2 linked regions of the Homo sapiens genome follow. The protein of the gene in region 1 purifies or fractionates together with the protein of each later gene. This does not show direct contact. Each region holds a gene or a part of one and is shown on either strand. Other genes may lie near its edges.

Region 1 (8,219 bases):
TACCTAGCAATCACATAATGTTCTTTTAAGATGTTAAAACTCAAATGCCAGTCCAGTCTATCCATTGTAAAGTTCCCCATTAATTTTTCACATGATATTTTTAGGATCATTACTTAGAGCTATGTTGCTGTTCCTCATTTTTTAAGTTCAGTAACAAATTGTTATTGAACTCCTGCTTTATGCTTAATGCCAGTAGTAGGGCTGGCATGTACTACATATCCAATAAATCTGCCCCCTTCTCTGCTCCAGCCAGCAAGGTATCTTTTCCACAGATAGCTGCTAAGAAGGTCTAGATTTCCATAACCCCCTGGGAAGTACGGTAATACCCACAAGCATATCTGCAAATCACTATAGCAGAGTTTATCTCCCAGGCCCATCCCACTTCCTCCTCCAGCTCTCCTTGGAGCTAAACATTAAGTCAAAATTTCATCAAGTATTACCTCCAATATAAAATATTTTCTATGGATAACTTTGGGTTGTTCTGTGAAATTTCTGAGTATCAATATTGCCCACCAACATAGATAACACTTCCTGAGAATCTCCTTTGCATAGTTCTATGTGATTACAGTTGGGAGGGAACCTTAATGATTACCTTATCCAACCCTCTCATTTTATAGATTAGGAAATTGGTTTCCAAGGTTATTCAGCTACGTAGAGAGAAATGTGACTAGAAGCTATTTCTTTTCTGTCTTTGTCAATGCTGTTTTCAATATATCTCATTGCCCTTTGTTTTTCCAATATTCATATGTTTCATTTTCTGACATACATTGTTTCTAATGTGCTTTGTATCTTGAGTTCAAATGAGTGTTCCCCCCGCCATATTGCTGTATGAATTTAGATGATTGCCTAAATAAATATATAAATATGTGGGGGGGGGTGTTGTTTATTATTGTTTATATTTTCTATTTTAGATGCAGCAGTTCTTAGGAAGACCTCTTGTGAAAGAATCTTTCTTTAGACCCATACTTACTGTTCCTCAAATGCCTGCAGTTTGCCCGGGAGTCGTCTCTGCAACTGGCCAACCTAGAGCCCCCCTGGTAAAAGCTTTCTTGGTGGAATAGATGTTAATTAGTTTTTTTATTACTCTAGTGGGCTTCCTGAATGAGTATCTTCATTTTGTTCATTCATTTGATATGATAATGATGGGGGTGGTGGTGATAATTGAATGAATACTTCCTGTGAAGCACTGTGCTCAGGGTGTTACATATATTATTTAACTGATACTAGCTTCGTTTTGGGATACAAAGATAAATATGTTTTTATACTAGAGAATCCTTAAAATTATAGTATTGCTTCTGAAATAGGCAACAATGCAGGGTAAATTGACATTTTTAATAGATTTTTTTGGCATGGTTGTTGGGAAGATTGAAAAGCAAAGAAGCCAAGTCACAACAAACTATATTATGGCACAAAGCTAAAGAAAAATTTTATTTCCACACACGTACACACACATAGTAGGACAGTATTTCAAGTGTATCTATAAACAGACTATAAATAGCATCACCTTGAAACATAAACTGTAAAGTTATAAATCTTCCCAGCTACAAATAGCCAGATAAACTTTATCCAAACCTGAAGAAGGAACATATAAATTTGAAATTACCAGAATTATCAGTTGTAATCTTGGTGAAGGTTTTTTATTAAAGGAAAATCTTCCAAAAGAATGATGTTAGATGTAATTAATGAAAATTCTCTAATCTTGATTTTCCTATAAGTATAATTAGGTGCAATTAATTGTTTCTTTTCTTTTCTGCTCCCCATATATTGCTAACAGTTTCCTTTTGAAATACATGGTCAGGTGGACTCTGCTTATTATTGTCGAGGCTACCTGTCTATAAACAAATCTGTATATAGTCCTTAATATGTTAAATAAGTAACACATCTTTTTACTACCATGATATTACAGTGTTAACTCTTGCAATTTGCTTGCCCACCATTCTATAAGAAACTATGATAAAATTTTATTAAAAACATTAAAATACCTTAATCTCCTAATAAGATTACTTTCTGATTCCTGGGGTAAAGCTTGACATAGAAGCAAATTCAGATTTCTGGGAAATATTCTGCTTCCCCTCACTTCTTAGGCTCTGTACAAATTATTACAGTGACTGTTAGTAGTTGCTAGTTTTTCATGAATAATAACCTAATATTTGAAAATAACCCATTAGAGCCTTACATAAAAGGTGCAAGTGGTCATAATTATCTTAGTAATCAGATGAGCACTCCAAAAATACTCTGTTATTATATTATTTAATTAGAATCTTAAGAAGGAACTACCATAAAATATGGAGAAAAGTGATGGTTTCATGGCTGCATGTCACTACAACTTCTGCACCACTTTTGTCTACAACATTGATGAGACATTGGGCAGAGCAGTTCTAGTAGTATTCCCATCTTTATTTGGTTGTTTGAAAAATGTAACTTTACTTTCTCGTTATAAAGGTATATATGCTAATCACAAAATGCGAATAATATAGAAATGTAAGCACATTAGAAAACAAAGTTACTGTGCAATTGATCCCTAAGAAATAATCACTTCTTACGCATTGTAATTTACAGACCTTTCTCCGTGTATACATATGCATTTAAAATTTTTTAATGTAAAAGGAAGTCGTATCATAAATACTGTGCCACAGACTTTTTAAAAAATCATATTTCATGCATATCTCTTATGCCCAGACATACAGTTCTATTTTTAAAAACTTGATTAGATGTGCCATAATTTATTCATTTCTCTATAGATGTAAGGTTTTTTCAGTTTTCACTGTTAAAAGAGAAACAGCAGTAAACAGCCTTCATGTTTTGCTGTACATGTATGTAATTACTGAAGCAAGCATGTCCTATTTTAAAAATAAGTTTAAATATTTATAAACAGTTAGAAATATTGTTTGTATTAGTTAAGAGAAAAACCCTAAAAGGGATTGTGTATGCCAGTATTCTTCTTCATTCTACCCTTTTCTTTGTCCTATTTTTAAAATAAGTTTAAAATAGTTACAAACAATTAGAAATATTAAGAGAAAAACTGTAAAAATTGAATGTGTATGCCAGTACGCTTCTTCATTGTACCCATTTTCTGAGGTATAGGAATGTCACTTCTTAATAATTAAACCTGCTGGGCTATAGCTCTCTGCCTCTTACAGATGACTGGCATAGCCTGGGCTCTGCCAGCGCCTGTGGGAGACGCTGTGCCTCCCAGTGCAGGTCTGCGGAGTGATCCCTCCATCATGAATTGGGAGAGAATTACAGACAGGCTGAAAACTGCCTTTCCACAGCAAACCAGGTACCTTAGTTTTTATTTATTGGTGGGTACAGATCATATTCTCCAGTTTTCATAGCCATAATTGTGGCAATGAAACATTTCAGAGAAACATAACAAACACAAAAAAAGTACAGATGTTTCCTTACCTTGACCTTGGTAAGGAAAAAGAAATTTACCAAGAAGAGACAGTGTTCAATGGTGAACCTCTTCATTAAAAAGTTACTTGTCTTAAATCATGAGAGAATAACTTTAAATTTAGGTATGCTCATTTACTAAAAGTACAACTAGATGTAAACTTACCCAATTTTAATGGCACTAACTGCCATTATTATCTTAACCTATCTCCAAAGTGAATTTTAAGTTGATTGTATGCTATATAAGCCCAAACATCTTTAGGATTTAATTTCCTAATTTCCTTAATTTTGAGGGTCCTTATAGTTTCTTTGTTGGAGAACACACTAAAAATGCAAGAAATCATAACTTTACTGTGCTTTTCACAGTCTACCTTTAGTAGAAAGATATTTAATTATATTCCTACACAAATGAAGTTTCTTTTATCTCAACTCATATCTAAGGAAATAATTCTACTTTTCACAAGTATTTTTATTTCAATACAAACATTTAATATATATACTGGCACACTTCATTATTAAATTATAATTTTATAAATTTCATAATAGTGAATAGATAATAAAATAGAACTCTAGTACAGTTGTTATAAATATGTATAAAAACATTATAAATCAAAGGTAGTTGCATAAGGCTGATGACATGACACTTCATTTGGGAAACAAAAATATTTCATTCTACTTTGTCCCATCAAAACTGTAGATGCAGGCTTTGGATCAATGGATCTTGGGAATTAAAAAGGAACATATCAATTAAAATAATTGTGGGTTCTTTCATTATATAATTAATGTGATTTTTAACCCTTGCTTTCCTGTTCTGTTTAATCTTTGTTTTCTGAGTTTTACGAAAGTACAACTATTAACACTGATAAAGAAGAGAGAAACCAATAGCAACATAGTTAAAAATAAATATGTTATCCTGAGCAAGAAACCACTTGAGAGATGGTATAAAGAACCCAATGCATAAATAAGTGGATAAACTTAATTTTCACCTAGTGAGCTCTCAAAAACGAAGTCTCTTTTTGGAAAGAAAATAAGTACTAAACTTTATCACTCATGAAAACATTAAGTATCATTAATGAACACAATTAGGAGTTTTCCTTTTGGTTTAAGATAAATGCAGATGGACCTGTGATCACTTTTTTAGATCAAAGACCTAAAGAGTCCTGTCTGTATGCTACATATCAATCATGCGATAGGATTTTATATCTCCTTTGGTGGGTACATCCTCAAAGGTACTAAGGAAAATCATTACTGCCCTTTCCTTTCCTTGATCTCTTGCAGAAAGGAACTTACAGATTTCTTACGGAAATTGAAGGATGCTTATGGAAAATCCTTGTCTGAACTGACATTTGATGAAATTGTTTGCAAGATTTCCCAGTTTATTGACCCCAAAAAGTCTCAGGTAAAATGCAAAAACAACCAAAAAACCTGTATCTCTCTGCCCTTAACTCTAGTAGTTAACTGTTTTAAATATCTCCATAACCTGTTCAGAAAATCAGTAACTTGTAATCATATTAAATCATCTATTAACAGTAAATAACAACTTCAACTTAACAAATGATATCAGAAGTCTTTTTGAAATACCTGTTACCTAATCATTCTAGAATAAAACTGACCTCCTTGAAATTTGCTCTAGTTTCTTTGAATGAGTCTAAAGAGGGAGAGATTTTCTAATTTTCTTGAAAGATTTATTTTAATTAAAAGAATGTATAGAGTTATTTTTGTTTTTACCTAGCTCTGAGTATATAAGTATTGCCACCATTTTGTTCAAGATTTCTCACAAATCTGATTATTTACCCTTTTGCTAGTTCTTACTATACCCCGTTCTGTACTAATGTTTCAGCTCTTACTGTTTTAGGATAATTCTGAAAAAATAAACATTATGTTCTTATTTTCAGAGTCAAGGAAAATCAGTGTCAAATGTTAATTGTGTTTCACCTAGTCATTCTCCATCACAGCCTGATGCTGCCCAGCCCCCAAAACCAGCCTGGAGGCCACTCACTTCACAGGGTCCTGCCACATGGGAAGGAGCCAGTAATCCAGTGAGACTGAAATTTTTGATTCTGAACACATTTAGATTTGGGAGAAAACAATGAGCTAAATTTAACATTTTCTGTATTTTCCCTAGGATGAGGAAGAGGAAGAAGAAGAGCCTTGTGTGATCTGTCATGAGAATCTGTCTCCAGAAAATCTTTCAGTTTTGCCTTGCGCTCACAAATTCCATGCTCAGGTAACACTTTAAATTTTCCCATTAATCAGCTAAATGAGATTCATACTGCCTTACTTATTATCATATACATGTATCATTATCCATTGTTGTCTCACAAGTTCCACTGGATATAACTCTGAGCTTTTGGGTACCACACAGAAACATTTATGCTTTTCCCATACATAGCCATGGATTGCATTGTGCTCTCTCAGATCTCCATCCACCCTACAGAAGAAGGGGACAATGTTGAGAGTCAGATGGTACACAGTAGGCAGTTCCTTCGAATAGAACTGGGACAAATGTCGATTGACGTGGTAGTTTAGTGGCAGAACTAGCAACAGCACCACTTGAAATTGACATGCTATAAATACCACATAGTGTCCTTTGTCCATAATTAATGACAGCCCCCTTTCATAAAGCATAAGATTTATCAGTCTCTTCAGGCTTCTATATTTGCTTTTGAAAGATACTCAGGCTTGAGTTTTGATGTTAGAAAAATGTGAGGCATGGTGGCTCACACCTGTAATCCCAGCACTTTAGGAGGCTGAGGTGGGTGGATCATGAGGTCAGGAGATCGAGACCATCCTGGCTAACACTGTGAAACCCCATCTCTACTAAAAATACAGAAACAAAATTAGCCGGGCGTGGTGGCGGGTGCCTGTAGTCCCAGCTACTCAGGAGGCTGAGGCAGGAGAATGGTGTGAACCCAGGAGGTGGTGCTTGCAGTGAGCCGAGATCGGGCCCCTGCACTCCAGCCTGGGTGATAGAGTGAGACTCCATCTCAAAAAAAGAAAAAGAAAAATATGAGGTTGGCATGTCTTTTGTTGATTCTTGGCATTTATATAGATTAAATTCTGGTGTTACTGCCACACAGTTGCTATTGGTATATAATTAATGATCCAAGTCCTCTGTTGCAGAGATGTAATTTGACACAGGAAAAGGTAGTCATAGTAAAGAAAGGCTTTTCAGGGAAGTAAATAATAGCCAGTTCAGTCAAGCCATGTTTGTAAGACATCATTTCAAAGATATGATATGTGGTACCTGGTACAGAATTATATTTTGTATTTGCTCTAATATGAAGATACATCCACAAAATGCCTAATCCCAAAAGTTTTCTAGGAAAGATCCTTAGCCATTGACTTTCCCCTTTGAAGTTTATAAGGTTCTGACAATTTAGGAAATACATGTTTAACAAAACTTATCCTACTCTTTGCCATTGCCCACAAGTAGAAAGCATATAATTCATTCAGGTCATTTTTTATGACTATAGTTAGTGGGCCTATTATATATAGTGCTTATTATTAATCCTCTCTCATCTGACCTGGCCCTCCATTATTTATATACGTAAAAATGATTTGTTTTTGGAGAGTCAGCATTCAAGCAAGTGACTTAACAGATAGTTCATAGCCGAAAATTACTGTCATTATCGCCAAAGAAAACAATCTGAGAAGTGTATTCATGATCTAGGGATTTTAACTGCAAACACCATAAGCATTTCATACCAGGTACTAGTGACTTTTGTATCATTAGTTATGACTTTTTCTGGATTATAAATGAGAACAGTATATAGTAAACCAAAGAATATAGCAAGTTTCTCCAATTTCCTTGTCAGGAAGGATTGCTAGTCATCTTGAAAATTGAGGTTGAAGGAAGCATTTCTAGTAGAATAAACTGGCTAAAAGGTATTGTGCAGTTACCACCTATTTTGTTTAGCAAACCACAGGGAAGGTGCCATGGTTGCAGCAATTGGTTTGACGATCCACAGCGTAAGGCTTTAAAGATCCACCAGAAGACATGTTGGTTGGTAACCCTGATGCATAGAGTGACAACTGCCTCTGCTAGGCTACATCTGAGAGACTGACATAAATCTTTTTGCTCCTTAGTGCATTAGACCATGGTTGATGCAACAGGGGACATGTCCAACGTGCAGACTCCACGTTTTGCTACCAGAAGAATTCCCTGGTCACCCCAGCCGGCAGTTGCCCAAGATCTGATACAAGGTCGGGGTGTCTATGCAAAGGAAGCTCAGTTTTCTTTTATTATGAGCTGCTTGTTTGAGTGGTGTAAAACTATGTGCTCTTCAATATAGTGCTAAAGAAGCCAGCTAATTTTATCAAAGCAGCAGCCAAAGAAGTCAGGACAAATCTTCAGGACTTGTGAAATGAACTGAAAGAGCTTGAAGCAGATGGAATTTTAATAGTTACACTATATATGCTCTTAGTAGGTTTTTTTCTTGTAGTGGAAACATAACTGTTAGCATATTTCTTAGGATGTTTTTTCTTGTCTTTTTAAATTCTTATTTCACTCATCCTTTACTCTCCCCTCAAGTATTCTACACTTTAATTTCCTGAAATAAATTTAAGGAAAAGGGAAATAGTAAAGAAGTAGGAATGGGTGCAGCACACCAGCATGGCACATGAATACACATGTAACTAACCTGCACATTGTGCACATGTACCCTAAAACTTAAAGTATAATAATAATAAAAGAAAAAAAAAAGAAAGTAAAAAAAAAAAAAGAAGTGGATATTCACGGAGAGCTATGAGGGGATAAAAGGGTATGATCTAATGGTAAGAAACTGGAAGAAACATAGCAAGTCATTTGTTCAGATTCTTCTCTG
Region 2 (8,219 bases), on another chromosome or scaffold:
GAAAAATAGAACCCGTAGCATGGTTGTAGTTAAAATGGAATTAGTCGTAAGAGATGGCAGGAGTTTATGGAAAGGGCTAGAAACTGTGCTAAAGAGTTTGTTTTATCCTGAAACGGAGAACTGTTAAAAACCTTTAAAGTGCATTGGCCTTTTGATTGTCTTTCCCAAGTAATGACAATCATCATTTTGTTCTGGTGTATTATATTTTTCCTTCCTGCCTTTAATTATTTATTTGTGCTTTCATCGATCAAAAATTTCCTTTGCACTAGGCACTATACAAGGTACTGGAGATATAATGGAGAGACAGCCAAATGAGTTTCCCAAGCAAATAGGGATGTAAGCCATGAAGAGAATAAAACAGAGTTCTGTGATGATTGGAGGGTTGGTGCTATATAGGCTAGGTGATGAGAGATGTCACCTCTTTGAGCTGAGATGAATAACAAGATGGTGCTATCTATGGTAAGAGCTGGAGGCAGAGGAAACAGCAAATACAAGTCTTGAGTTGGTAATGAACTTGTGTTTGTGGAATCAAAGACCGATGGCTAGAGTCTGGTGAGGGATGGAGGGGAGTTAAGGGAAATGAGTCTAACAGCAGGATTCAGAATCACAGGACATTATGGTCCATGACATAGTTTAGGTTTTACTCTGATTGCTGTGGCAGACCAGTGGAGGGGCTTAAGCAGGGGGATGAGGTGCCAAGATTTGCATATTTAAGCTTACTACTCTATGTAGAGAATGACTGTTTTATGGAGAATAGATTGTAGCGGGCAAGAGCAGAAGGAGAAAAACCATCTGGATTTACTTCACTAGTCTAGGTAAGAGATGATGGAGGCTTATTCTCGAAAGTGCTAGCCGAAGTCAAGATAAGGACAGAGGTTGATAGATTTGGAATATATTTTGGAGGTAGAATTGATAGGACTGGGTTGGCTGTGGGACATAGGGAAAGGAAGAAATCAGGAAATACCCTAAGATTCATGTTAATGCAGTTGTATAGTTGGTAATGCTATTTATTTGCTAAAGTGGGGGTGACCTGATGGATGTCACCATGGGGAGTGGTGGGAATCAGAAATTGTGTTTTGGATGTTAGATTTAAGACATGAATTAGACATCAAAGTGGACGTTAGATTAGGCAGTTGGATAAAGTAGTTTGCAACTCTAGAGAGACCGGTGCTGAAGCTTGCAGTGGTATTTGAATCCATGAAGCCATGGGACTAGATGAGTTCACAGAGAGAGAATGATGGTAAAGAAGAGCACAGAGGCCGTGAGGTCTGAGCCCTGGACAAGCTCAACATTTAGAGTTTGAGTAAGGGAAGAAAGATCCTACAGTGAGGAAACAGGAAAACCAGAGTGTGGTAGGAGACAGAAGAGAATGTTTAAAGGAGGATGGTGGTCAACTGTAGTGAATTCTGCTTGGAAGTAAAGATTAGGATGGAAAAGGAATCACAGAAGCAGCAGAGAGGTCATTGTTGAGCTCAACATGCAGTTTCAGTGGCATGGTTAGCTTGGAAGCTGACAGAAGTAGGTTTAGGAGAGAACGGGTTGTGAGAAAGTGGGGAAAGACTCACTAGAAAATTTTTGAGAAACATTTGTAAAGATTTATTTTAACTATTTTTTAAAACCCCATGTATACATACAGCTATTTGAAGGGTAGAGGGACTCGAAATGAATTTTCATAACATCCATATTCTAGAACTCCTAGATTTGAGCTTGTAAAGTCTCATATTTCTCTGTCTTGACATTTATGTCATCCAACAAAAATTGGTGACAACGCTAAATAAGGTAGGGACATAACGGATTTTTTTTTTTTTTTTTTAAGAGACAGGGTCTGACTCTGTCCTCCAGGCTGGAGTGCAGTGGCGCCATCATGGCTCACTGCAGCCTCCACCTCCTGGGTTCAAGTGATCCTCCCACCTCAGTCTCCCAAGTAGCTGGGACAGCACCGCCACACCTAGTTCATTTTTAAATGTGTTTGTAGAGATTGGTTTCACCATGTTACCAATGGTCCCGAACTTCTGGCTGGTCCTAAACTCCTAGGCTCAAGTGATCCTCCTGCCTCTGCCTCATCCTCCTAAAGTGCTGAGATTATAGGCATGAGACACTGCACCCAGCCATAATTGATTTTTTTTTTTTTTTTTTTTTTTTGAGATGGAATCTTGCTCTTTTGCCCAGGCTGGAGTGCAATGGCATGATCTCGGCTCACTGCAGCCTTGGCCTCCTGGGTTCAAGTGATTCTCCTGCCTCAGCCTCCCAAGTAGCTGGGACTACAGGTGCGTGCCATCATGCCCAGCTAATATTTTTTATTTTTTTATTTTTTGTATTTTTAATAGAGACAAGGTTTCACCATATTAGCCAGGATGGTCTTGATCTTCTGACCTCGTGAACCGCCCACCTCGCCCTCCCAAAGTGCTTGGGTTACAGGCGTGAGCACTTTTTTTTGAGACAGAGTCTGGCTCTGTTGCCCGGGCTGGAGTGCAGTGGCACGATCTTGGCTCACTGCAACCTCTGCCTCCCAGGTTCAAACGATTCTCCTGCCTCAGCCTCCTGAGTAGCTGGGATTACAGGCGCCCGCCACCACACCCAGCTAATTTTTTGTATTTTTGGTAGAGATGGGGGTCTCACCATGTTGGTCAGGCTGGTCTCGAACTCCTGACCTCAAGTGATCCAGCTGCCTCAGCCTTCCAAAGTGCTGGGATTACAGGTGTGAGCCACTGCACCCAGCCCATAATTGATTTTTAGGATGTCACTTGGTGGTGTAAATAAGAAGCTTCCAGAGGGTATAAACTCTAGCAGAGTATCTAGCAGCTATTTATTTTTCTTTCATAAATTTCATTTCAGTATGTGAAAAATCCTTTTTCCCCCATAGTTTTATGATTTTTTTTTTACTTTAGATGTTGTTATCATAGATTCTAGCTTTCCTTATATAATACAAATATATATTATTGATTCTAAGTCAAATTTTTTTAGAATTTTAATATCTGACAGTTGGGATGTGACTTAGAAATAAGTGGTGTCTTAAATTAGATGATATGCAGTGTGATGTGAATATATAAAATATGTGATGTCAGTGAATATATGTGTATATATACATGCACGTGCATACATTGATTGGGAGCTGGCCTACTATTAGATAGATTTGAAATTGGTATTCACGAGTAGACTAGTTTCCTAAAGTGTATGGGATTATCATAGATCTGCTGTTGGACCCCTGTATGTTTTGCTGTGATTATCAGTGTTTTCCTTAGAGACCATTGGGGCAAAAGAGATAGGAGTGAAAGGAAAACTCAACTAGCACAATTTTAGCCTCTTATTTATTTTGATGTCCTTTCTTCAATGAATATTTATGGTAAATGTAATAACTCTTTTACAAGAATTTAAATGTGTGTTTTCATTTGAAGTCTTCCCCCATTTCCTTTCTTTACCTCTTAAGAACAGCATTCACGTGGCTACAACAGTAGGATTTTGTATGAGAGCCCATAGTTTTGTTGTCAGTATTAACGATCCCACTTTTTTTCCCTCAAGGAAATGCCTTCTGGTTCCTTTGCCACTATTGTTTAGACGTCTTATTTTGGATTTTTCTTCTAAAACTTTCCTGGAATGAAAAACTGTTGTGGTTGAAAAGATCTTTATTTTATCTGGTATATTTATCCCTTGTAAGTCCAACTAGAATTCCACATTTTAAATATTATTCTTATAGGGCATTTTACATTGAATAATGATGAATGTTTTTAGCCTTACATAAAAATATGTATTTGTACAGTTGTGCAGCTATTCAGTACAGGTTGCAGTTTCATAGAAATTCATTTCTAGTTTGGTTGTCAGGTGAGAATGTTGCTATAGCTTAGGTAGTACTACTTTCTTCACATCTTTATAAATGTGTTTTAGGTAACTACTGTCAAGCACAGGGTTGCAGAATATATTTAATATAGATTTTTTATATGGTGTTCTTATGATGTAAACTTATAGCTTTGTCTTGGAATATTTTATTCAGATACATTTTCAGAACCTCTTTTCTTGATCACCACTGTTATTTCTCTGATCTTTGGAAGACCAAATTCAAAGTATATAGAATCTTCAGTACATTAGACTATTTTGGAAGGTAGGGAATTCATTTCAGTAGCTGGTTATAAAGCTTAAGTTTTCTTGTTTTTATTTTCATTCTTTCCATATCCAGAAAAGAAATCAATAAAATTCAGTCTTTGTAGCAGCATAGAATTCCATCATTTGTAGTATTGATCCTAATTTTGATCAGTAGTTTATGAAGTTGGTTCTTGCTGTATTTCTGTATCCTGGGATACCACTTATAGAGGATTATGATGCATAAGTAGAACGTAATTTAAAAATAATATTGGAGAAGGAAAGTAGTGGTAAGGAGTGGTCCTCATCAGATCTGAGTTTGAGGTTTTGTTTGGTTTAATATAATCTTCTATTTTATATTTAACACACTTCACCAGAATTCTTTATTTTCATTTAATACTGATGCTCATGATTCTACAACTGCTTTTATAGTTCCGTTTGAGTTCAGCAGTATTCTGAGGTGCAAAGTCAGGTTTAGCTTTAAATCTTATTTAAAAAGTGTTAGGCTTTCATAAGCTTATGCAGTCTCACCTTGTATATTCCCAGCTATCAGTAATGTTTTTTCCTGGATTTTCTTCTCAGCAACCCGATAGCAGAAGGGTCAACTCTTCTGTTGGATTTTCTGTTTTGCAGCATACAAGCAATGACCCATATTGCTTTGTGGAATTTTATGAACACAGAGATGCAGCTGCTGCATTAGCTGCTATGAATGGGAGAAAAATTTTGGGAAAGGTAAGATAATAGGATGATGGCACCTTATGAGTACATATATTTGCATGTCAAACTAGTTTGTATTCTTTCTAGGCAAATTTTTGAGCAGATATTCGGCTGCTGAGTGATGGTTTTGCTTTATTCAGCTTAGTGCTTTTACAAAAATAACCCTGCTTGATAAATGATTTAATAAGTGGTAAGTGTTGTAACTCATGACATGCCTAATAATTTTATTAAATATAATCTTTATTTTTAGGAGGTCAAAGTAAACTGGGCAACCACACCAAGTAGCCAGAAAAAAGATACTTCCAGTAAGTACTCCTGCTGCATTTTACTGTGGAAGAGTTCTGAAATTATCCAGGAGGCATTACCAGCTTAAATAGGTTTTTTTTTCCTCCTCTAGAGTTGCCTTAAAAAGGTTTTAGTGGCTGACTTCTTAAGTATTTGATTACCAAATGCTCTGATTTCAGATCACTTCCATGTGTTTGTTGGGGATTTGAGTCCAGAAATTACAACAGAAGATATCAAATCAGCATTTGCCCCCTTTGGTAAAATATCGTAAGTATCATAATCAGTACTACACTCAGTCATGATAGGCAGAATTGTATATGATTAACTTGTAATTGAATTAAGATTTTCTTTCTCTAGTTAGTATGGTTTTGTTTTGTTTCTTATTTTTCATTTATTTATTTTGGTTTGTTTTGAGTAGTGGATGTTGTTGAAAATGTTAATGTCATTTCAGTGTCTTGGGGTCTCGTTTTCATCTAATCCTGTGTATAATATGTTAAAAAAAATTTAAGTGATTCTGTTTGTTATCTTTGAAGCAGATGTTTGAATGGTAAAACTTATAAAGTCTAGCTTTTTGTCATATGTTTTCAAAATTTGATGGTTTAGGATAATGAGTTAATCAAAAGTAAATGTGATCTATACTGTGTAAGAGTTCAATAACTTTTATAGGAGGAATTTATAAATGGGGGAGAGTAGGTAAATCCTTGGATATATTGTGATTAAATTGGAAATGTTCATGTTTTATTATGATAAATGTGTTTTTGATATTTTAGCTATAAGTGAAAAGTACTATTATACTATTAAAATGTTTCAATGTATGAGTCATAAATGTGGGATTAATTAGATGTTTTTGTTAGTGATATTTGATTCTACTAGTTAAGAGGCAAATGTGGTTTGATTTTTAACAAATTTATGCTCAGATTTTACTGTTGTTACTTGGTAAAAAATATATTGGAAAACTAAAAATGGTTATGAATTGTAGAAAATGTTTATCATAATTTATCTTTCTGATTAAAATCAGTTTATTTTGTATATTTCCTGTAGATTTAAATTAAACATCTTAGTACTACTTTACAGGAAAGTGTTTCAACTAAGAACAACAATATTTTCTCTATACAATTTGTTGTTCTATAGATTTAATTTCTTTAAAAGATGTAATTCTTAACTTTCTGTTTTGATATTTGCTTTGCTTTTTAATCTAAATGTGGTAAGTAGTACTATTTTAAAAATCAATATAAAAATAATACAGGTTGCTGTTTTTCAATCTTTATTTATACCTGAGACCTGCAGTTTTTCTTAAGTCCAAGTCACAATTAAAAGTAATAGCATTCTGGTTATTTTGCAGAATTGCTCATAAGAATGGACAGGATCTTGAAGGCTAACTGCAAGGAACTGTGCACACTGGAACTCAGTTGTAGATTTTTTTTCTCATTTCTATTTATTCTTATTATACATTATTTATATATACATATTTTAGTATTTACATTTTAACATTCTATATTCAGTGGAGTTCTATATTTCCAATCATTTAACTTACTCACTAAAATTTCTGTGTAAATTTGTTGTTTTCGTACTGGTGTGCTTAGCATTGTTGTTAGTTTTTTATTCTCCTTTCTTAAATTTCTGAAAATGTCAATTTTTCAAAATTTACAGCTGCCCAAACTCCAAAATGATGGTAGAGAATTGACCAAGAAAAATAAAGAAATCTGTTAACAGGCCATGTATGCCTTTTTAATTCCTATTTTTTCCTCTTTTTCAATTTTTTAATATTTCATATATTTTGTATCACTAGGCAGAAGACATTTAACTATTTAGAGATTGCATGGTAAAGTAGTTAGTATTGTTACAGTAATTTATAGAATCAGTAAACCTTAGAGGACACTAGTAAATAGAATATTAGAAAGGGAAACTGTTGTTCCTATTAATCTTCAAATTTGAGCATTTAGTTTAGAAAGCACAGGCTATTTGATTAGGTTGCATGTTTATTACATGTTTTTGTCCTACTGCTTTTTTCTAACAGGTAAAGAAGCATTAGGGAGAGTTCAGGAATGGTTGTAGTTAATTAGGGCTAACTGGAATTTTATTTTAAAAATGCTCACAATACAGTGTGTGTGGTTCCTTTTAGTTTTTATTTTGAGGGTGGCTCTTACTTCCCTCATTTAGCTGTGCTTCTTTTCACAGGGATGCCCGGGTAGTTAAAGACATGGCAACTGGAAAATCCAAAGGCTATGGTTTTGTATCTTTTTATAACAAACTGGTACGTTCTTCCATCTCAATTTATATTTTTTAATACTAAATTTAGTCATTAGTTACTTAATGTATTGAATCTGAAACTTGAATATACTTGAATGTTAACTACAAACACAACTTTTATGTAATGTTATGTATGTTTTAATAATAGAGTATAATTTCATTCCTCTTTCATAAACTCGAAAATAAATAGCTAGAAAAAGAATGATTATACTATAAGGAAGATTATTAAAATTGTGTTTGTACATTGGTAAAGGTCAGATGGATTTAGAAGTAAAGCCCAAGTCTAGGACAGATGAGCTAATCTGAGAATTTAGAGGTTAGGTAAATTATATTCAGTTTTAACCATGAAAATCTCAGTTTTAACTCTACCTTTTAAATTATTATTCATACTCTTATATAACTGGGATGTGAATGACTACAACAAATTATGTAAATAAAAATTTAAGCAATTCATCTTGATTTTTGCATATATTCTTTGTAAAAGGGGTACCAAAGTAAGCATTTGCATTAACTGTAACATTAAATAATAAAGTGGGCTTTGATTTTAAAGCAGTTTCAATAACTTAAATCAATGTTTTGTTTTGTTTTGTTTTGTTTTTTTGAGATAGAGTCTCGCTCTGTTGCCCAGGCTGGAGTCCAGTGGTGCCATCTCAGCCCACTGCAACCTCCACCTCCCGGGTTCAAGCGATCGCGCTGCCTCAGCCTCCTGAGTAGCTGGGATTACAAGCATGTGCCACCACACCCAGCTCATTTTTATATTTTTGGTAGAGACATGGTTTCACTTGGGTTCGCCAGGCTAGTCTCAAACTTCTGATCTCAAGTGATCCTCCTGCCTTGGCCTCCCAAAGTGCTGGGATTACAGGTCATCTACATTTTATTGAAGTGGTAAGATA

What was found. Proteins that work in one complex are often made in the same cells at the same time.
Region 2: the proteins of DZIP3 (region 1) and TIAL1 purify together in Homo sapiens (affinity purification with mass spectrometry; 3 studies listed by BioGRID and IntAct, with this or other methods). This does not show direct contact.

Annotation. Positions count from the first base shown.
Region 1 is NC_000003.12:108,683,305-108,691,523, forward strand, and holds part of DZIP3 (E3 ubiquitin-protein ligase DZIP3), read left to right. Parts: intron 1-911; coding exon 912-1,037; intron 1,038-3,123; coding exon of another isoform or gene 3,124-3,140; coding exon 3,141-3,280; intron 3,281-4,671; coding exon 4,672-4,792; intron 4,793-5,288; coding exon 5,289-5,432; intron 5,433-5,518; coding exon 5,519-5,620; intron 5,621-7,482; coding exon 7,483-7,593; 3' UTR 7,594-7,599; intron 7,600-8,219. UniProt on the Homo sapiens protein: E3 Ubiquitin ligase proteins mediate ubiquitination and subsequent proteasomal degradation of target proteins.
Region 2 is NC_000010.11:119,579,046-119,587,264, reverse strand, and holds part of TIAL1 (nucleolysin TIAR), read left to right. Parts: intron 1-4,656; coding exon of another isoform or gene 4,657-4,707; coding exon 4,708-4,806; intron 4,807-5,041; coding exon 5,042-5,096; intron 5,097-5,255; coding exon 5,256-5,343; intron 5,344-6,418; exon of another isoform or gene 6,419-6,792; coding exon of another isoform or gene 6,793-6,794; intron 6,795-7,254; coding exon 7,255-7,330; intron 7,331-8,219. UniProt on the Homo sapiens protein: RNA-binding protein involved in alternative pre-RNA splicing and in cytoplasmic stress granules formation. Shows a preference for uridine-rich RNAs.